Regions from separate parts of the Homo sapiens genome. Here regions 2, 3 and 4 are each linked to region 1. Evidence: fine-mapped expression QTL. A gene starts in region 1. Each other region holds a variant in brackets. All regions are shown on one strand. Distances are between the middles of the regions. Region 1 holds the start of B4GALT1 (beta-1,4-galactosyltransferase 1). Region 2 has its middle 4.5 kb from the start of MIR12117. Region 3 overlaps B4GALT1 (beta-1,4-galactosyltransferase 1). Region 4 overlaps B4GALT1 (beta-1,4-galactosyltransferase 1).

Region 1 (5,260 bases):
ATATTATTATTATACGGTGTATTGAGTGCCCGTATTTTTTTTTTTTTTTTTTTTTTTAGACAGTCTTGCTTCGTCGCCCAGGCTGGAGTGTACTGGCACAATCTTGACTCACTGCAACCTCTGCCTCCCAGGTTCAAGCAATTCTCCTGCCTCGGCCTCCTGAGTAGCTGCGATGCCACCACCCCTGGCTAACTTTTTTGTATTTTTGTAGAGATGGGATGGTGTTTCACCATATTGGCCAGGCTGGTCTCAAACTCCTAACCTCAAGTGATCCACTCCCCTCAGCCTCCCAAAGTGCTAGGATTACAGGCGTGAGCCACCATGCCCAGCCTGAGTGCCTGTATTTAATGTACACGATCTCATTTAGTCTTAAAAAAACCCCTGTAAGGTAATCATCGACAACCACATTTTACACAAGGAAGAGATTTTGAGAAACTCGATAGCATGTCTCAAGTCAGACACTTAGCAGCAAGGCAGAGTCCATTTCATTTTATGGGACTAGTCTGCTTCCCAGAATAATCATCAAATGCAAAGGAATTTAATTATCTGCTTAAAAAAACAAGCCCCCATTATTACCACAGTTCACGTCTGACCAATTCCAAGATGTTCTTCCCAAACTTGATATGAACACATTGACGCAATTACTGGCGAAATTGAGCAAGAGTATGTAGTAGCCAGGGCTCTGTGGGAAAGTGACAGAAAACTCCTATTGGCAGGATGTCATCCTGCCTGCCAGGGCCCCTCACTTACAACAATTATCTAAAACCTAGCATTAGAAATGAGAAACCACCTGTGTGGTAACCCTGGAAGCAACCTGTGGTTGCCTTGGGCCTGTGGGCCTGTAGGTTACAGGTCAAAGAGAAGTCCAGACTAGGCTCAGCCAGCTGCTATGAGGAATGCAAACTCACCTACTCAAGCTCTCTGCCTATGCTGAAACAGGCTAGAGGTCAGAGTTCAGATCATCTGGGCAAGATAATTGAGACTCAGGCTGCTACCGGAAGTACCAGAAATGGGCAACGTGGTGTTGACTGGTTATATTTTAGCCCTCTAACACCCAGAGTACACAAGCTCTCTGCCCCTGGGAGAGATCCCTGCTCACCTAGGTTTTGGGTACCCATACCAGGAGGAGGCTAGGGGGAAGGGCTCTCGGTCACGATCCACACAGAGGAAGAAATGAACACACAGTGACAATTTACTGAGGGCTTACCCTCATTAATTAAGCCCTTATTTACCATTGTTCACAATATCTTCCAAAACAACCCCTTGAAAGGGTGACCATTTATTATCCCAGAAGAGAAATATGAGGTTCAGAGAGAAGTCACTTGGCCCAAACGATCAGGAGAAAAACCCACTCAGGAGAGTGGCTCTATGGCAAGACACGTGAACCGAGAGGTCAGTCTCCTTCCCCACCGGGAGCCTCACGTCAGTCCCCAAAAGGGAGTGGATTACTCGAGGTCCCTACCAGAGTTCTCAGTGCAAGGCTGCTCGAAGCCCTAAGCAGACCCAAACTCCAAAACTTCCTGAGCCTCGGGCCACAGCAGGGAAGTCTCCAAGGCCTTCTCTGGTTCTGGGGCTAGAGGGGCCTCGGGACTTCCCTGTGCGGTCCCGGCCCCACGCCTCCAACAGGACTCCCCAGGGACCCACCTCGCAAACCTTCTCTCCCATCCAGTCCCAAGCCTCTGTCTGGGATTTAAAACTCTGATCCAGAAGAGGGAGGCTGGCTGTCGTAGAAGAGCCAGCCTGAGGGAATGTCTGGGGGACCCTGTCGGGGAAATCCGGGGGGGTCCCAATCCTCCGACTGGCGCCGACCCGAGTCCTTACCAAGCAGCGGGGACTCCTCAGGGCAGGCGGGCAGCGACAGTGCGGTGGTGTGGGGCACTGGGACCGAGGTCAAGTTGCTAGCGGGGCCAGGGCCAGAATCCACGACTGGGCTGGAGTCGCCACCCGGGCGCGGCTGGGAGGAGGCGCCTAGAGGAGGCGGCGGCCGGGCCCCTCCGGTCCGGAGCTCCCCGGAGGACTGCCCGATGGCGGCGGCACTGTTCGAGCCGCCCTGCAGCGGTGTGGAGACTCCGACCAGTTGGGGCAGGCGGCTCAGGTCGCGGCCAGCCAGGTAGTAAACGAGGGTGACGCCAAGGTGCAGAGCGCAGACGGCCACGAGCAGGCGGCAGGCCCGCTGTAGGGACGCGCCTGGCATCGCGGCGCTGCCGCTCAGGAGCGGCTCCCGAAGCCTCATCTTCCCGCCGCCGCTTTAAGAAGGGTGTGGGCTACAGGAGGGGAGGCGACCCGCCCGCGGGCCGCCCGCCAGGCGCTGCCCCACAGCGGCGACTAGGGGAGGGCCCGGAGCGGGGGCGGGCGAGCGGCTGAGAGCTGAGACTCCTCCAGCCAGCCAGACCTGGGAGCGGCGAGAAGCCGCCCGAGGCGCCGGCGGAGAGGGGAGGGGCGGGGCCCCGGCGAAGGCGGGGGCGGGGCCGGGCGCGGGGTTTTCTGGACGAGGGCGGGAAGGCGGGGCAGCCCGTGGCGGGATGGGCGCGCTGGGCGGGGCCTCGGGAGGGTGGGCAGCGGGCGGGGCGCCGTCGTGGGGTCCCCGGAGTATGACTGCAGCTCCGACGCTTGGCCGCGCACCGCCCTCTTCCTCCCGAGCCTTTGCGGCGGAGCTTCGGTCGCGTTGAGCCGCGCCTCCTCTTCCTCCTCCACGCTGCCCTCGACAGGCCGCGCCACTTCCTGGGGTGCGAAGGGACTCGGGTGCGAGCCTGGGCCTGCAGCGCGGCGGCGGAGAGAACGGAGAGGACAGCTGGCGGGTGGTTATCTGGAGTGGTTTGGGGCCGCGGCGGCGTTCTGGCCAGTGGGCCTTGGTGGGCTAGGAAGAGAGGCAGAAAAAGGTTACCCAGGAAACGGGCTTCGACGCCGGGCGAGGAGTGGCACGTTCGAAACCCCCTCCCTAACTCAGCCCGGCTGGACCCCGCTGCTTAACGGGGGGTCCTGCGGCAAAGAAAGTGGACGGGTTGCCACTTCTGTGCCTCCCCATCAGGTAGCCTGGGCTATAAGGGGCTCTCAGACCAGCTTGGTTCCAGATGTGTGTGTGGCGGGAGTCCTGTATACTTTGAAGAGGAGAGCAGCAAGAAGCCTCTAACTCCCAGGCCAGCGTGCAGGAGATCAGCCGGCGTTACAGTCTACACTGGGCTACCCACTGTCCCATGAAGTAGCAGTTCTCCCCATGTCGTAGAGTGGGGCCCCGGCAGATTAAGAAACTTTCCTAAGAGCCCACAGCTGGCAAGAGGCAGAATTCTGGCTCCGAAACCCATGTTTTCTACAGGTTTACCCTTTGTTGATTTGCAAGTAAGGGCTGAAGGCTGTGTGGGTGAGAGACTTAGGCACTGAAGCCACTTGACCTCGATTTGACCCAGAGGCCTCAGGCCCTGAGTGAGCAGAGACACCTCACCCCAGAGAAAGACTCATGGAGGTGCTGTCAGTAATGTGGATAGGGAAGTTGAGGGCTCTGGCAGCCAACCATCAGGGAATAACAGTAGCTACCTTATTTTGAGAGTTTGCTGTGTGCCAGTACTATCTGCCATGAAGTAGGTGGTGTTACGGTGTCCATTTCACAGATGAGAAAATAAGGCTTATGAGTTGACACTTTGGTTGTGATCATACAGAATCAACTTTCCTCACTTGACTTCCTGGACACCAGGTCCTTCTGATCTTCCTCACTTCACTGGCCATTTCTGTCTCCTCTCTGGACTTCTTCCCCAGTTGCTGAAGGCCCCAGCCATAGTCCATGATGTTCTTTTGTGTCTACACTTACTGCCTCGGAATGATTTATAATATCCAAATGCTGATCACTGATTTGTCTCCAGCCCAGATCTCTTCCCTGACCTCCAGATTCAACTGCTTATTTTACTGGCATCTCAAACACAATACATCTTGCCCTCAGCAACCTACTCCTTACACACCACTCCCGTTCTTACCTCCCTCAGAGAGTGATACTATTGTTTATTCAGTTCCCCAGAATCTAAAAGGTGTCCTTGATGTGCTTCTCTTGCTCTCAATGCCATTTGCAAGCCCTCAGCCAGCTTTGTCAGTGCTACCTTCAAAACATCAAAATTCACCACCAGCCAACTCTGATGTAACCATCCTCGATCAAGCCACCATCATCTTGCCCTGGGTTATATGGCAGCTACTAATTGGTCACCCTGCTTCCACCTCCTCCATTCCTCCTCCCTAGTCTGTTTTCCACAGAGCATCCAGGAAATCTTTGTAAGCATAAATCAGATCATGCCATTTTGTTCAGAACCAAATCCACAGAAACCCTGTTCAATCTGGTTCCTATTTCCCTCCCCACCCACATCTGTCACTCTACCATGCTGGACCTGCCTTAGCCACACTAGCCTGATAGCTATTCCTTGAACTTGCCATATTTCTTCCTGCCTCAGGGCCTTTGTACTTGCTGTTCATTTAGCCTGAAACACTTGTCCCCAATATTTCATTCAATTCAGGTCTCTTAAATGTCACCTTATGACAGAGACCTTTTCAGACTACCTTATGCAGAATGGCCTCCTGCCCAAATCTGCTTAAACTGCTTGAATTTTTTTTTTTTTTTTTTTGAGACAAAGTCTTGCTTTTGTCCCCCAGGTTGGAGTGCAATGGTGCAATCTCACCTCACTGCAACCTCTGCCTCCCGGGTTCAAGCGATTCTCCTGCCTCAGCCTCTTGAGTAGCTGGGATTACAGGTGCCTGCCATCACGCCGGGCTAATTTTTTGTGTTTTTAGTAGAGACGGATTTCACCATGTTGGCCAGGCTGGTTTCAAACTCCTGACCTCAGGTGATCCGCCCGCCTCGGCCTCCCAAAGTGCTGGGATTACAGGCGTGAGCCACCGCGCCCGGCCTTAACCTGCTTGATTTTTTTCAGAGTGGATATCAACTACCCAACATTATGCATTTATTTTCTGTTGTCTTGCCTCCCTCATTAGAAAATCAGCTTCATGAGAACAGGAAATTTCTCTCTTGTTCACTACTGTATCTTCAGCCCCTAGATTTTTTTTTTTTTTTTTTTGAGACGGAGTCTCACTCTGTCACCCAGGCTGGAGTGCAGTGGCGTGATCTTGGCTCACTGCAAGCTCTGCCTCCTGGGTTCACGCCATTCTCCTGCCTCAGCCTCCCAAGTAGCTGGGACTACAGGTGCCTGCCACCATGCCCGGCTAATTTGTTTGTATTTTTAGTAGAGATGGGGTTTCACCGTGTTATCCAGAATGGTCTCAATCT
Region 2 (5,260 bases), 63 kb before region 1:
GCAGTGAACCTGCACGACAGGGTAGACCCAAGACAGGAAGAGTGCCCATGGATCCTGGGAGCCAGCAGGGCCAAGATCTGCCAGCCAAATTCACAGAGGCCACCAAGCCCAGCGCCCTTGAGACACACACAGCATCTGAGTCAGACACAGAGCATTCCAAGCTGGTAGGAATGGCCCAAGCTGACATATGAGATGTCATGCCCAACAGACAAATTGTTCATGGGGAAGATTTCTCCTGTCCTCAGCATGCAATTCTTCTCTCCCCATTCCATAGTCTCATTGTCACTAGGTCAGTGTCTATCCAGAGCAAACCACATGGAACACAAATCATTGAGGCTTGGAGTTGATGAAGTTAAACCCAACAGCCTGCTTTTTAGCAGTCTTGATTCAGCTTGTCATCAAAACAAACCACAGCCCCTGGCTTTGCTTAGGAAAATGCCTTTGGCTGAGAACTTACAGGGGGGTCTTGGAATAGTGTGGCAATTGCTCTCCCTTGGGAAGAGGGTGTACAGTCGGGGAGGAAAGGTGCCCAGAAGAGAAAGGGAGAACTAAGCAGGCATCTAGGCCTTATTGGGGAATCCTAGGTCTCCACCTGGACTTCTGGGTCCCCGCAGTCTTCAGACAGACACTGTGCTGAGCCCTCCTGAGCACCAGGTGTTGGCCCAGGCAGGGCAGGTCCAGGAGGATTAAGAAGCTGTGTTGTCCATGAAGCAGGAACTGGTTGTTGCTGCCCAGAGTGATGCCTCAGAGGCAGAAAACCCCATGTCTTCAGGTCCACTTGCATCCCCAGCCCTCAGGAGTCTCCCTTCTTCCCTCTTCCCCACGCCTCAGGCCTCCTTGCATCCTCATGGATTGTTTCAGTGTTAACCATTCCTGTACATCTCCCAGACCGTGGTGACACCAATGCAATGCCCCTGGTATACGGAACTGTCGCTGTCAAGTTTACTAGGTTCCTAAGTCCTCTAAAACAGTAAAGGGAAAACAAAACAAAACACAAACAATCTCATCCCAAAGGTGCTCTTGGCTCCAGCCCTGGATCCAGGCTGTACTTCTCTCGGCAGTGCTGCTGAGGCCACAGCTTCCCTGGCTGGGGCAAGGAACCTCACAGCCTCCATCGCCCTGCTCCCACACTGTGTGGATGAGGAGCTGGGTCATGGTCCAGTGGCCAGAGCCCTAGCCTGGGACTCAGGAGGTCTGTGTCAGACCCAAACTCTGTGTGACCTTGTGCAAGTCATGTGAGCTCCCTGAGCCTAAGTTTCCCATGCTGGAATTATTGTAAGGAGCAACACACGGTACGTGGGAAAGCGCCGAGTGTGCTCATGGAGGGTGAACACGGGTGAGGGGTTCACGAGTCCACCTGCACCCTCCCTGCCCCACAGGCCCGCCTTGGAGGAAGGTGGGAACTAAGAGCTGGGCCATGGAGCTGGCCTTTCTCCTGTGCTTCTGTCATCAGGGGAGACCAAAGTCACTGTGGCCACCGCAACAGGACACAGGGAGCACTCCAAAGGCCCCGGCGACGTTTGATTGTCCAGCATTCCACATCTGTCCCAGAAATGAGTTTCCAACAGCTCCAGGCTCAGGTCTGTGTCAAAATCCAGATGTCAGGGCCTCCCTCTGCAACAGGGCTCCTAGATTCTGGAGTCAAAGATCTACTAGAAAAGGGGTCCCCCTTGTCGAGCTCTGATCAGGCACAAGAGGCGAATCTCGCCCCTCCAGAGCCAAGACAGTGTTCCTCTCCTACCGCATTCTTTCCATTCTTTAGTGTCTTGAGGCTTGACAGTTCAATTGCCCTCACAAAAGAGTGGCAAGAAATGTTGTAACTATTTTTCTAAACCTGAGAGAATTGCCAGAAGCCCCCCCAGCCTGTGTTGAGCTCCCATTCTGCCTTCTCAGACCTTCCTACAGCCATGCCATTTCCCACCACCTGTGAACAGAGTTCAGGCCTCCACCATTCCCCCAGGGGAGGAACCCTGCATCACCCTTCCAAGACTGGGGGACTTATGGGGAATGCAACTCCTCCCAGAAGACAACCCAGCATGTCCTCTCAACAGGGCCAACATTCTGAACAAAGGCCTCAGCCCAGGGTGGGGCGGGGACGCTTAGAACAGGGGCCTGGCCCCAGGCTATGTAGAGAAGGAAAATCATCTTCAATTTTTTGCTCATGCATCTGCTCCCAGAAACAATTACAGAGTAATTTCTGCACTAAATTATTCATACATTTCCCTGCCTCATATGGAAAGACCATTCTGTAGTTTCCTTTGTTTCCTTAGGCCTCTTTCCAATCGATAAATATAGATCCACTTCATCATTCTCAATGGTTGCATAGTACTTGATTGTTTGGATGTACTTCATTTTACTTAGCACAGTCCCCCGTTGACGGTGGCTTCTCATTTTCCAGGGCTACAAACAGCACTAGGGCGAACACTGACGCACATACATCTTGGGGTGTGACTTTGTTTTCTTAGGATGAATTCCTAGAAGTTGACTTGTGAGGTCAAAAGATAGGTCCACTTTTAGGATTTATTTCTCTATAGTCCACTCCCAGAATGGGTGTGGTAGTACCCTCGCCAGTACCAAGTCCTGTCTCTCCCAAGTGTCCTGCCCACTCTCCAATCCAGGGTCTAACATGGAGTTCAGGCTCTGCTTCCTGACACCAGGGGACCCTCCTCTCCTTCAAGACATAACCTATCTAGCTGACTCCATTTTCACCCCCAGGGATAATCCAGCCCCCAGCTTGTCATTTCTTCCTCTAAAAAGCCTCCAGCTCAGCCCCTAGTTTCCACCAACAGTCAGTGGGAACCAAGTGGGCACCCTGGGAGTAAGAGGCTCCTTGCTCCCAGTCCTGAGATCTTGACTGAGTCCAGGCTTCAACTTCTCCACCTAAGCCCCACCTGGCAAAAGGACGGTTGTACCTATGTCATAGCTTTGCCACAGCCCAGACTCCTTAGGGGAGGACAGCATTTGTCTCGAGAACAGGTAGCCGCTGAAAAGCCAGTCACTGGGGTCAAGGTCCCCAGCTGGATTCAGCAACCAGGCTGAGTCCTTATGACTGGCCAATCCTCCTCAGGTGGCACAGCCCACACAGCCAGCACGTCTCACGCTCAAATCTCCAGGAAGATGCTGGGACTAACCACCATG[C/T]GCTGCCACCTCCAGAGCAGAACAGACCAGGCGAAGCCTTCACCACAGGAGTCTTCTTATTTTTTCATACTGTGGTAAAATACACATAACAGAAAATGCATCATTTTACCTTTTTTTTTTTTTTTGAGACAGTCTCACTCTGTTGCCCAGGCTGGAGTGCAGTGACGTGCTAAGTAAATGAACTGCAACTTCCACCTCTTGGGTTCAAACAATTCTCCTGCCTCAGCCTCCTGAGTGCCTGGGATTACAGGCATGTGCCACCACGCCCAGCTAATTTTTGTATTTTTAGTAGAGACGGGGTTTCACTGTGTTGGCCAGGCTGGTCTCAAACTCCTGACCTCAAGTGATCCGCCCACCTTGGCCTCCCAAAGTGCTGGGATTACTGGCGTGAGCCACTCACTGCGCCCGGCCTCCACATTTTAACCTTATTTATTTATTTATTTTGAGATGGAGTTTCACTCTTGTTGCCCAGGCTGGAATGCAATGGCCCAATCTCGGCTCACCACAACCTCCGCCTTCCAGGTTCAAGAGATTCTCCTGCCTCAGCCTCCCTAGTAGCTGGGATTACAGGCATGCACCACCACGCCTGGCTAATTTTGTATTTTTAGTAGAGACAGGGTTTCTCCATGTTGGTCAGGCTGGTCTCGAGAACTCCCAACCTCAGGTGATCCTCCCGCCTCAGCCTCCCAAAGTGCTAGGATTACAGACATGAGCCACCAAGCCGGCCCATTTTAACCATTTTTAAATGGGAACAGGTAGCAACTGAAAAGTCAGTCATCGGGGGCAGAGTGCCAATGTAAAGTTCTGTGGCATAAAGTACATTCATATTGTTGCACCACCACCATCCATTTCCAGAACTTTTTCATCTTCCCCAACTAAAACTCTGTACTCATTAAACAATAACTCCCCATTCCCCTTCCCTTCCCCATGCCCCTGACAACCACCATTCTGCCTTCTGTCTCTGTGAGTTTGACTATTTTAGCTGACTCGTCTAAGTGCAATCATATGATATTTGTCCTTTTGTGACTGACTTATTTCGGTTAGCATAATATCTTCAAGGTTCATCTGAGTTGTAGTATATGTCAGAATTTCCTCCCCTTTTAAGGCTGACCGATATTCCATTGTATGTATATACCGCCTTTTGTTTATCCATCAATGGACTCGTGGGTTTTTTTTTTTTTTTTTTTTTTGGCTACTGTGAATAATAGTGCTAGGAACTAGTATCTGCTCAGGCTCCTGTTTTTATTTCTTTTGGGTATATAGCTAAAAATGGACTTGTTGCATTCTATGGTAATTCCATGTTTAATTTTTGGAGGAATTTCCATACCATTTTCCATAGGGGTTCCACCATTTTACATTCCTACCAGCAATGCACAAGTATTCCAATTTCTTCTTTTCTTTTACCCTGAATCAACAATGACTAACATCAGATCCAATTTCTGCATATCTTTGCCAACACTTATTTTGTGTTTCTGGTTTTTAAAATAATAACCATCCAAATTGGTGTATCTCTTTGTGATTTTTATCTGCATTTCCACTTAAGGGAGCCTTCTTAAGGTCAGGAAATCCTAGATCCCTTTGTCAAAGGACAGATGGCCCAGCTGAAAGAAGCCTGGGTAGGGAGTTTGCTCCCACGCTCCTCTTAACCCTATTTCTTACTCCTGGGAGCTGAGCAGAGGTACAGCCACCCTGTCCGCATCCCTGTGCTTCTCCCTCAGGCCCCTGGGTACTCTTGACCCTGCTGAGCTTGGTAGGGGATGATCAGGAAGCCTGAGTTTTGGAAGTTAAGGAAGAGCAGGTGAGAGGAAGGATGGAGACAAAGAAGCACTTCTGAGGGACAGCAATGGAGCGTGGATGGCATTGGGCACAAGAGGGAGATGTCTCCAACGCCATGCCAGCCCTCCCTCACCAGGTAGAACTTTAATAGCTTACCCCGTGATGCTCCAGGAAGCCCTGGGAGGGAGGCAGGGAGGGAGGAGAGCAGGAAGGGGTGATCCTGCTGCTTTTACAAATGATGACCCAGAAATAAATGGACTTCCCTCAAGAAGACAGAGAAGGTTAGTCGCAGGGCAAGAGGAAAAGTCAACAGCAGGGCACTTCCTACAGAAGACACAGAGACACA
Region 3 (5,000 bases), 43 kb before region 1:
AAAGCCTCCTGCACACATGCTGTTATCCTAACCAGAATCTTCACAACACCAACATGAGGAAACGAACTAAGGCCCAATACTTTGGAATCCTCATTCAATGCTCTTTCCCATCTCTCTTGGGATCAACATAGTCAGAGCCCTCTACTTTGGGGAAAAAGTGTGTCATAGGGGCTTGCGACTGGTACACAATCTCAAAAGTGGGATGCTCAAAGTCTTCTCTCCATGCCCTCAAAAGATGACCTGGGCTGGGCATGGTGGCTCACACTTGTAATCCTAACACTTGGGAGGCCAAGGTGGGCAGATCACTTGAGTCTAGGAGCTCGAGACCAGCCTGAGCAACATGGTGAGACTCTGCCTCTACAAAAAATTACAAAAATTTGCCAGGCATGGTGGTCCCTAGTACTCTGGAGGCTGAGGTAGGAGGCTCAACTGATCCCAGGGAGGTTGAGGTTGCAGTGAGCCATGACGGCACCACTGCACTCCAGCCTGGGCGGCAGAGTGAGACCCCCATCTCAAAAAAATAAATAAATAAATAAATAAAACCAAGACCTGGAAACTGGCACTCCAAAAGGCTGCCTGTGTGCGTACAGAATGCACAGATGTGCCACAGCCACCCAGACTCAGGTGGGGAACTTGGGGAAGCAAACCACTTAGAGAAAGAGAGGCACCAGAAAGAGAATCAAGGAAACATTTTACACACAAGAGCTCCTTTTTTAAAGCCTCTGACAAAGTTTTCTAACCCCGCGTGGTGAGTGAAGGAGCCCAAAGGCACACTGTGTTTTTTGGCTGTCCCACAGGCTGAGTTGATTTGGAATTCTGCGTTCAGCTAATTCTGTGTAAGTCATGGGTTCAAAGAAATTCAAAGTTTAGGCTGGGCGTGGTGGCTCACACCTGTAATCCCAGCATTAGGGAGGCTGAGGCGGGCAGATCACTTGAGGTCAGGAGTTCGAGACCAGCCTGGCCAACATGGTGAAACCCCATCTCTACTAAAAACACAAAAAATTGCCGGGCACAGTGGCTCACGTATGTAATCCTAGCACTTTGGAAGGCCAAGGCGGTGGATCACCTCAGGTCAGGAGTTTGAGACCAGCCTGGCCAACATGGCGAAAGCCCGTCTCTACTAAAAATACAAAAATTAGCTGGGTGTGGTGGCGGGCGCCTGGATTCCTAGCTACTCAGGAGGCTGAGGCAGGAGAATCACTTGAAGCCGGGAGGTGGAGGTTGCAGTGAGCCAAGATTGCGCCACTGCACTCCAGCCTGGGCAACAGAGCGAGACACTGTCTCAAAAAAAAAAAAAAAAAAAAAAAAGTTCAAAGTTTAGAAATTGCATATGAAAATTATGAAGTTGTTGGAATTATTATAATATACTGTGAATATTCACTGGTGGGGATACCATACACAAGGCATGGATAAGTGTTTCAAATGGCATTTCATTTAATCATCTTGACAATCTTGTAACAACCCTCACCCCAGCCCAGACTTACACTGTCAAACACAATTCAGCCCCGTTGAGCACTTTCCAACAAGCAAAGGGAGGTATACCAACAGAGCCTTTCTACATCTATGCACTAGACCCCCAGGGCTGCCCAGCCCAGGACAATGCTCCCTTCTCTTGGTACACTCCCCAACAACTGCAGCAGAGGGCTCTTTGAGGCCATGTCTCTACCATAGGACTGGGCCTACTGGCCTTGGCTGTTTGATCTAAGCAGAGGCCTAACTGAGACTGAACTAAGCATTTTTCCTCTCCCAGGAATTGGAATTTTGGAACCACGAATGAGCACCTCTGCAGCCAAGGCCCATGAGCAATGGCACCCTGGAGGAGAAGCCCAAGAAGCAGACCTGGTTCCAGCCCCTTTCACCGCCCGGGGTGCCACGGCCCTTTCAACGTGGTGAGATGCCCCAGTGTCCGGCCCAGACTTAAAATTGGTCAGGCAGTTTTCCAAAATAACCTGAACTATATATCCCTCCCTTTCTCCCTCATCCCAGCCTGGCCTCATCTGTGGGATGCAGTGAGACGGAAGGGCATGGTGCACTTTAGCAGGTGCTATCA[T/C]CTATCAGGGGCCGTGGGTACACCAGGCCAGCAGAACAGTGGAGGAGGAAAGTGTCCTCCCCGGAATGACAGAAAAGTCAAGCATTTTCTAGGCTGCTTTGGGTGAAATGCTGTAACACTGGGGCACACACCTTCTTTGATAAGAAAGACAGGCCCTGGCAAGCTCACCAAGCCCCACCACTCACAAGAGGCGGGAAGACGCCCAGCTTCACTCCTGCCCTCCTCACTGAGCACACTCATCGGTACCTCTGCCCCTCCATTTGCTCAAGTAAACATTGATCAAGCACCAAATACACCACAGTGACAGACACATGCATTTTTAATCCCAGGAATGCTGGCTTCTTTATTTATTAGCTATGTGACTTGGGGTACATCACACCTCCAGGCCTCAGTTCCCTCTTTTGTGTTATGGGGAGAGCATGTGCATTGTATTAAATGAGACAACATTGTCTACCAACATAAGATTAGGTCCACCCTTTAAAAGCTGGGTTTTTCAGAATTAAGAAGACCCAGCCCGGGGAGGCTGAGGTTGCAGTGAGCCATGACAGCACCACCGCACTCCAACCTGGGTGACAGAGACCCCATCTCAAAAATGGGGCCCCACTGCCTGACAACAAATGTTGGCTACTATCATTACAGGAAGAGGCTTTCCCATCCATCTTGAACAGTCAGACCATTCCAAATGTCTCTTAGATATCCTACCTGGAGACTCTGCCTTCTGTAGTGTTTGCTTCAAAATTCCTCCCAAATCCTGCTTCTCTGATGAATGGGAAATTACTAAAAACATTTAAGGCTCAAGGGAATTAGCCTGTGGCTTACATGATTAGAGTTTCTCACAGCAGAAGAGAGTCAGGGGGACCTCTGGAGGCCTGTGAAATGCGTAGGAAGTCACGCTTGGTGAAGAGAAGCCAGCATGCTGGGTGCAGGTGTCCCTTTCAAAGACGCAGCTTTTAAAGGGTGGGCCTAATCTTATGTTGGTAGACAAGAGTTACAGTTATCCCTTCCTTCTAGGTCAACTGGCTGCTTTTAGAAGGAGAAGACAGGCCCCCAAAAGAAAGGCCAGAAAACATATAAAATCCCCAAATGATTGAGCAGAGACTGCCACAAGATGGGGACTGGAGACAGCAGACAGAATCGACCAGACATAGACTCTGGAGGCGGTGCTGGGAGAGAAGGCATCTGTAGGAGCAGAGAAAAGCATGCATGGTGAGAGCATTTGTAAAGGCGGTAAGGAAAAGAGAACAGCCAAGGAACTACAAGAAATTCCGAATGAGTGAAGCCAGAATGAAACATGAAGGCAGCGATGAGCCAAATCACCGAGGCTGGGGAGAAGGGTTAGGTGCTTGTTAAGATACTTAAGCTTTATCTTTATTTAGGCCACAGGGAGCCTTAAACCATGGTTTATATGTCAAGGAGGGATTTGTGCCCCAATCCAACTGAAGGCAAGGAGACCAGTTAGGAAGCTGTTGTATGATTCCTATGAGGCAACAACCGTGGGTAAGCAGACAGTGCCTCCCCCAAGGGCCAAAGGCAGGGGCTCCACTTCCACTTCCATGCCCCACCTGCTCCCTGTGTATGTGCACTACACTTGCAAGCAGCCTTTGTAGGGGCGGGGCGAGAGGTTCAGGACAGGTGCTAGAATCTGGTCTAATCCCCAAGAAAATCCTAACTGTGGTTAAGGAAGGCAAGTGTGGCCTTCCCCTGATTGCAACAGGGGACAGATGACCAACTACAGAAAGCCAAGGGCCACTCTTGTCCAAGTTCCAACAGCTTCTGGAAGAACTGTTCTGTCCAATCACCCTGCCTTCCCTGGATGTCAGGTCCATGTGTGTATATCAGCAGACACATCCCTTATCCATAATGGCTTAGGGACCAACTGTGCCCAGCCTCTCCTGCACCAAAAGACACAGCAGCAACATGGCTGGAACCATTAACCCAAAGCCAAGACTCGCAATGAGTCAGAACTTCTACGTGATAAGAGAGACACTGTTGCTCCTATACACATGCCCTGGCTCATCACAGAGCCACACCCCTCCCCACCATGCAAGAACGCAGCACTAAGCTCTCAACAGGACAGATCCGGGGGCAGGTCTGCAGCCAGTGGCAATGTTTGCTGAAACACCCTCTGTATGCTTTTCTGTGCCCACTGAGACAGTAAGAGGAAGGAACTAGGCCGAGTGGGTTGCATGAAACAGTAACAGATCAGCGGCAGCAGAAGCTCTGACGGGGCATTCCTATAGGCCTAAGTGTGGATCCTGGAACAGTGGACAGGCTGGGAGATGATCCCCAGAGAATTACTGGAAACAGCCTGGGATTATACAAATGCTGAGTTTGTGGAGGGCTAATAATATCTACTCAGCCATGAGTTCACAGCAGTTGGGCTCTAGTTTTGCTTTTGTTGTTGTTGTTTTTTTGCAGGGGAGACAGGGTCTCGCCATGTTGCCCAGGCTGGCCTTGAGCTCCTGGACTCCAGCAATCTTCTCACCTCAGCCTCTTGAGAAGCTGGGACTGTTAGCACATGCCACCACACCCAGCTGGGCTCTAGTTGTTAAACATTGTTAACTATTGTTAACCATAGTTAACCATTGTTAACATTGTTAACTATTGTTAACCATAGCAATATGGTAGCTCAGAGCTCTCAACAAAACTTGGATCTGAGATTTAAACTCTTCACCCCAGTGAGTGAGAGAGATGGGCCTTCAAGGGTTAGGGACCAGGCTATGGGAGTGGTTCTTGGTCAACCAAAGACACCACTCTCAAGAGTGAGCATACCCTTGACCCCTGCCACACAGGAACACAGACTGGACTGAGGCTATAAAGTTGCTTTCAGAGAGAACTGAGCTCCTTGAAGAGCCCAACAGGGATTCTGGGTGAAGTGAGCACAGAAGAGACAGTTTTTGTTTGTTTGTTTTTTTGTTTTGTTTGTTTGTTTTTTTAAAATGGAGTCTCA
Region 4 (5,000 bases), 54 kb before region 1:
GAACACCAAGATCAGACACAGCCCCCTACACAATGGTAAATACACACATTTGCATACACAGGAAATCAAAATACACAGCACAACAGGTCTCTGGGACATGAAAGCCGTCATCCTGGCTATGCAGAGCCCCCGCCCCTGGCAGTCAGCAGAGACCCTGTCCAGGCTGAAGGCCAGCACAGCATCTCCTTTACTGTCCTGTGCCACCTCTGCCCTCTCTGATCTTTCCCAAAGGCCAGTTCACACAGAGTCACCAGCAATAGGATACACAGAAACAGAAAAGGGCACGGCACATGACAACTTCGCGGTCATAACTCCCAGGAAAAGGAAATGCTCCCTGAACCCCCAGCCCTGAAATCCCCAGTAAGGAAACAGGACCCGCGGCATCTCACGGACCAGGCAAACATCCAGGCCTAACTGTGCCCTGGCTGTGCCTTGGGCCCAGGTGAGCCCATGAGAGCACTACGTCAGCAAATGGGGGGAGCAGTATTTCCCTTGGTTCTAAGAATGAACCACATACTTGACATGAATGAGAAGGTAACCAAAAAAAAAAAAAAAAAAAAAAAAAAAACAACAAGAAAAGGTAGAGTTTGGTTTTAAGAGTAAAATAACACAGAAGTTACCACTCAGGGCATTTGTCTGATTTCTTTTAAGGCACTTTGGAAAAGTCAGGATCTGCGGACAGAAAGAGAGGCTTTCATTCTTCTTATTTCCCACAACTCCCTCTCAATGCAGTCATTTCTAGTTTTAATAATATCCTTGGTATAGAGTGGGGAACTGACAGAGAAATACTTTTTGCATAGTCCAGCTGCTTCTGCAATGGAAAATAATTTTTAACCAATACAAAGGCTTCTGGAAAAAGAACCAAGTTAGCATCTGAGATGCGCAAAGCAGTAAAGGCACAGATAAGACTGGGGCCAGGCACCAGCTCAGCCTCCACACTGAGGGCTGGTACCCAGGAGGGCAGTGGTTTGGGGTCCGCCACGAGCACAAGGCTCAACCCTGGGATTAGGCAGCTGAGTCTTGGAACCTGAGCCCAGGCTGGACCTGGCAAAGGCGCTCAGTGGTAGGAGTGCCTTGTGTCATCTCATCCCAGGTGGCTCAATAGCTCCCAACAGAGGTGGGTTTGTGACAGACAGCCCTGTGGGTGGGAGCCTCAACTGGGGTGGGAGCACCTGTGAAAACCTGAGGTGGAACAGGAGGCTTTAGGCACCGAAGTTCTTGGGAGGGAGTTGGGGTGTGGGTTCGGCTGAACTTCTTTCTAGATCACTAATTAAAAGGCACATTCATGCTGGGGAATGGATAGTCTGTTTGACCCTGAGTGCCACAGTCAAGTTTTAGGGGACAGGCAAGAGGCAAAGGAACAAAAAGGGAGACGAAGGAAGGAATGAGAAAGGCAGGGGAAAAGAGGAAGGAGGAAGAACTGGTAACAAAGGGTGGGCCACGGAGTGTGGCTAGCAGAGCCTCTGAGGGAGGTGGCCCCCACCAGAACAGAGGCTCCCTCTGCCTGGGGAGGTGCAAAGGGCTGGTAAACAACCTGACTGCTGTTATTTACAACCCCCCAGCCTAGGGGCCTGAGGGGTCAGTCTAAGGAGGCTGAGGCTCCCTCCGCCCTGCCCACCTGGGGAGGGTTGGGGAAGTGGAGAGTTCTGCACAGTAGGTGCAGAGGCTTCTGTCTCCCAGGTATCCTCCCCGAGGTCTGGCAGGATAATGCTGACCGGGAGGCCTTACCTGCCAAGGGGCCAGAGGGTGATTTTGCTCTTGAGAAAACCTGGCCTGCCAGCTAAATCATAGGCCTATTTGTGGCCACTACAGCATATATTTATTTTTCTCCCTAAAAAATGCTCAATACCCCTCCCCATATTTAAAACACCACAATAAAAATACATAGGAAATTCAAGTTTACATAGCATGCCAAGAAAAATAAATTGTCATGACTTAACATTAAACAGCTATGCAAATTTGGATCAACACAAAATCAAGCTAGATCATAATTAGAACTCGATCTGTTCTTTCTTTAAAATACTACAAACTACTATTTAAAAAAAAACACAACAACTTTACATTCAGAAATCAGACAATCTGGAGATAGGCCACTGAATGCGAGAAACCCAAGGCTTTTGCTCTGATGCTAGAGTTGCCCTGGAATCCACACACATAGGACAAAAGGTCCAGGGCTCAAGTTTTAAAATCCTTTTGCTAAGAAAAGACATATGCACAGTGATTGCAGTGGTTGCATACCACTGAAAGAAGGGGGTGGGGGGAGGACGTAACATTAAGAATGGTTGAAATTTTGTGTTTTTCTGTTAAATTACAACTACCAAAAAGATCACACCAATCCAATTTTAGCAGCACTCTCCGAATTTTCACGAATAAGAAAACCATAATTTAAAGAAAAATTCTAACCTATTTCACGACAATTTAGCAATTCTATCACCGGGAATGTGTTCCACGGCCACCAAATTTTGGGATGTGTACAGTTCTGACTCTGGGGTGACACTGCGAACACATCAAGAAACCCGCAAAGGCATAAACACCTTGCAGAGCTAAGAATTCACATGCCGAGCCAAGTTGGGGGCAAAATATCCCACTCGTCCTGGTCATCTGGAAAGCCAT[C/T]TGAATGATGAGCGAAGGGGACCTGTCACTCAGACTGGTAAAAATGAGAGGGACCAGCCCAGCAGATTGGCAGAGACACACAGCAGAGGTCCCTGGCTAATTTCAGGTCTCTTATCCGTGTACCAAAACGCTAGCTCGGTGTCCCGATGTCCACTGTGATTTGGGTATACAATGGGTATCTCTGTACATCCAGCACCTGGTAGGTGAGTGAGTTCAAACCATCAGAGAGCATTGTCTCCTTTGTGTGTGCAATTCGGTCAAACCTACAAGGAAAAGAGCACAAGGAGATTGTCTTAAAACAAAAATCTTAAGAAGAAATCATCACACGTACTTCCTCCTCCCTCTCCACTGTAACCTGACCACCTCAATTTCCCTCTAGGCCCAGAGCCTCGGACCTGCAGCCTACCTCATCCTAAAGGGGGAAGGAGTATGAATAAACAAAGAATGCACCTCTGAGGATTGGGTTCATTTTTCTTGTCTCTTGAGTGGCGGATCATGCGACACCTCCCGACCACAGCATTTGGGCGAGATATAGACATGCCTCTAAAAACTAATCTGCAAAGAGTAAAGGGAAAGTCATTATCACAGAGCTGCCATACACTTGGCCTGAGAGCCCCGGCTGCAAGACTGTTGCTCCATCCACCATCACCCTTGCTGTTCTCACTCAGCCCACAACCCAGCATCATGCCAGAACCCAGCCCAGCATGACCCTGGTTAAAACTCACATTCCGACTCCATGTCCTTTTACAACTGGTTCTGCGGTTTGTGGTGTTGACTACCATGTGCCAGACACTGGGGCCGTGTGCCCCACAGAATATACAGTGTGAATGCTTCAAACATAGGGCCTTTAGGGCCAGGATGGAGGTGAGAAGAGGAAGATGAGGTTGGAGACACAGAGGAAGAAGCATAGAGTTTGTAACCTCTGCTGGAGCAAGCCTAGGCAGAGCCCAGTTGAGGATGAACAGGTATCTGCCATAGCATTTTGGGCAGCCAGGATGGCACAGGCAAAGGCATGGAAGTGAGAGCAAGCCTAGTGCCCTCAGGGAGCAACGTAAGCTCCTGGGGACTGGTGACAAGGGTCTGGGGTAGGACGTGGCAGGTGATGGGCTGAAAAGGGCCAGGCTAAGTCACAGAGGCCTTCTCAGAGCATCCCACAAACGGTTGCCAGTATCTGAAAGGGGCCTAATATACAGTATTTCCAAAATGCTTTTAGCCATGGGGAAGTCTCTGGAAAGTAGTATACGAATGGAGGGCTTCAGAACATGTGGGAAAAGGCAGAAAAAAACAAATGGAGGGCTGAGAACAAGACTAGAGGCAGCCAGAACAGGGTGGAGGATTCTGTGTTGGTCCAAGGAAAAGGAATGAGGACCAAAATGAAAGCCTGGAGAGCAGGACAGCAAAGTTAGTTAAGAGGCAGAACTGGCTGATCCCAGACCACTTAAACATTCCTGGCCTTGCCTGGCACACAGTAAGTGGTGCATAGAAAGTGTTAGGTCCTTTATCTTTCAAGAAAGTTGCTCCACACACCACCCATCCTTCTAGTGCCACTGCGTTAGCATGGGACTAGATGCCTGCGGATGCTCCCTCCCTCCCCAGCTGTTCTGACCATTCAGACCTGTGGTATCCTGTCGGCCCTGCACACTGTCATATCAGTCCAGAGTGTCTGCCCAGGAGTGCCTCTGTGGAAGCAGGCTTGCTTCTGTCTGGACCCTATGTCCAGGTTTTCAGTGTCCTGGGCCTGCCTGGCACAGTGCTCTGTATGCAGCAGATGTTCAATGTGCACACACTTGATACCCCATCTACATACTAAAACTGGAGTTTCCTTCAAGGCTTATATTGAAGACGTGGGTCTCTGTTAAGTTTGCACACAATGGTAACTTGAATGACTTGGGTGTTGCTCTGACAGACACCTTCTGTTAACTGGTACTGCAATTTAGAAAGGCTGCACCAGGGTGTATTCTGATATTAAACTCAGTAATGAGCTCAGACTGGCTCCTGGAGGGAGAAGGTGCTCATCGGTGGCTGGTGGGGTTGAAGCCTCTACAGCCAGAGGACTGAGCAGAATGTTCTTTCAAATGCTACTGATAGATGTTTTTTACCACTGTAAATGACAACCCACATCATAATGATTTACCAGCTTAAAAAGAGCCCCAGGATGTGGATGGGACAGAACTGACCAGGCCATAATGGTTGCTGGGGCTGGATAGGTCCTCAAAGGTTTATTATACTACAGTATCTCTTTTGTATATGTGAAAATACTCCAAAATAAAAATATAACACAAAGCTTCTGTGAAGACAGTTAGGATTCTGCTCAAGGAAACTTGTTTCACAGTGAAAGGGGACCATAATGAAAGGAGGGATTTTTACAAAGGACATTGGTTTACTCC

Evidence for each region.
Region 2: its variant is fine-mapped to the expression of B4GALT1 in whole blood (TOPMed, PIP 0.99).
Region 3: its variant is fine-mapped to the expression of B4GALT1 in whole blood (INTERVAL, PIP 0.99).
Region 4: its variant is fine-mapped to the expression of B4GALT1 in whole blood (TOPMed, PIP above 0.99). The same link has a PIP of 0.9 or more in blood mononuclear cells, lung and monocytes.

What each region holds. Positions count from the first base shown.
Region 1 is chr9:33,164,937-33,170,196 of GRCh38, forward strand. It overlaps B4GALT1 (beta-1,4-galactosyltransferase 1), which reads right to left and starts at 2,400. Exons shown (of 6, transcript NM_001497.4): 1 at 1,822-2,400. The coding sequence starts at 2,233. B4GALT1-AS1 (B4GALT1 antisense RNA 1) reads left to right here and starts at 2,012. Exons shown (of 3, transcript NR_108110.1): 1 at 2,012-2,110. RefSeq lists silencers at 2,152-2,425, 2,184-2,583 and enhancers at 2,251-2,816, 2,734-2,833, 2,817-3,381, 2,904-2,983.
Region 2 is chr9:33,101,575-33,106,834 of GRCh38, forward strand. It overlaps a transcript of B4GALT1 not described here. Among named protein-coding and RNA genes, the nearest start is that of MIR12117, 4.5 kb to the right of the region's middle. The variant C/T (reference allele first, on the strand shown) is at 3,139.
Region 3 is chr9:33,121,994-33,126,993 of GRCh38, forward strand. All of the region lies in intron 2 of B4GALT1 (beta-1,4-galactosyltransferase 1), which reads right to left. Among named protein-coding and RNA genes, the nearest start is that of MIR12117, 16 kb to the left of the region's middle. RefSeq lists an enhancer at 2,828-2,877. The variant T/C (reference allele first, on the strand shown) is at 2,051.
Region 4 is chr9:33,110,711-33,115,710 of GRCh38, forward strand. B4GALT1 (beta-1,4-galactosyltransferase 1) reads right to left here. Exons shown (of 6, transcript NM_001497.4): 5 at 3,064-3,168; 6 at 1-2,876. The coding sequence ends at 2,744. Among named protein-coding and RNA genes, the nearest start is that of MIR12117, 4.5 kb to the left of the region's middle. RefSeq lists an enhancer at 881-1,480. The variant C/T (reference allele first, on the strand shown) is at 2,614.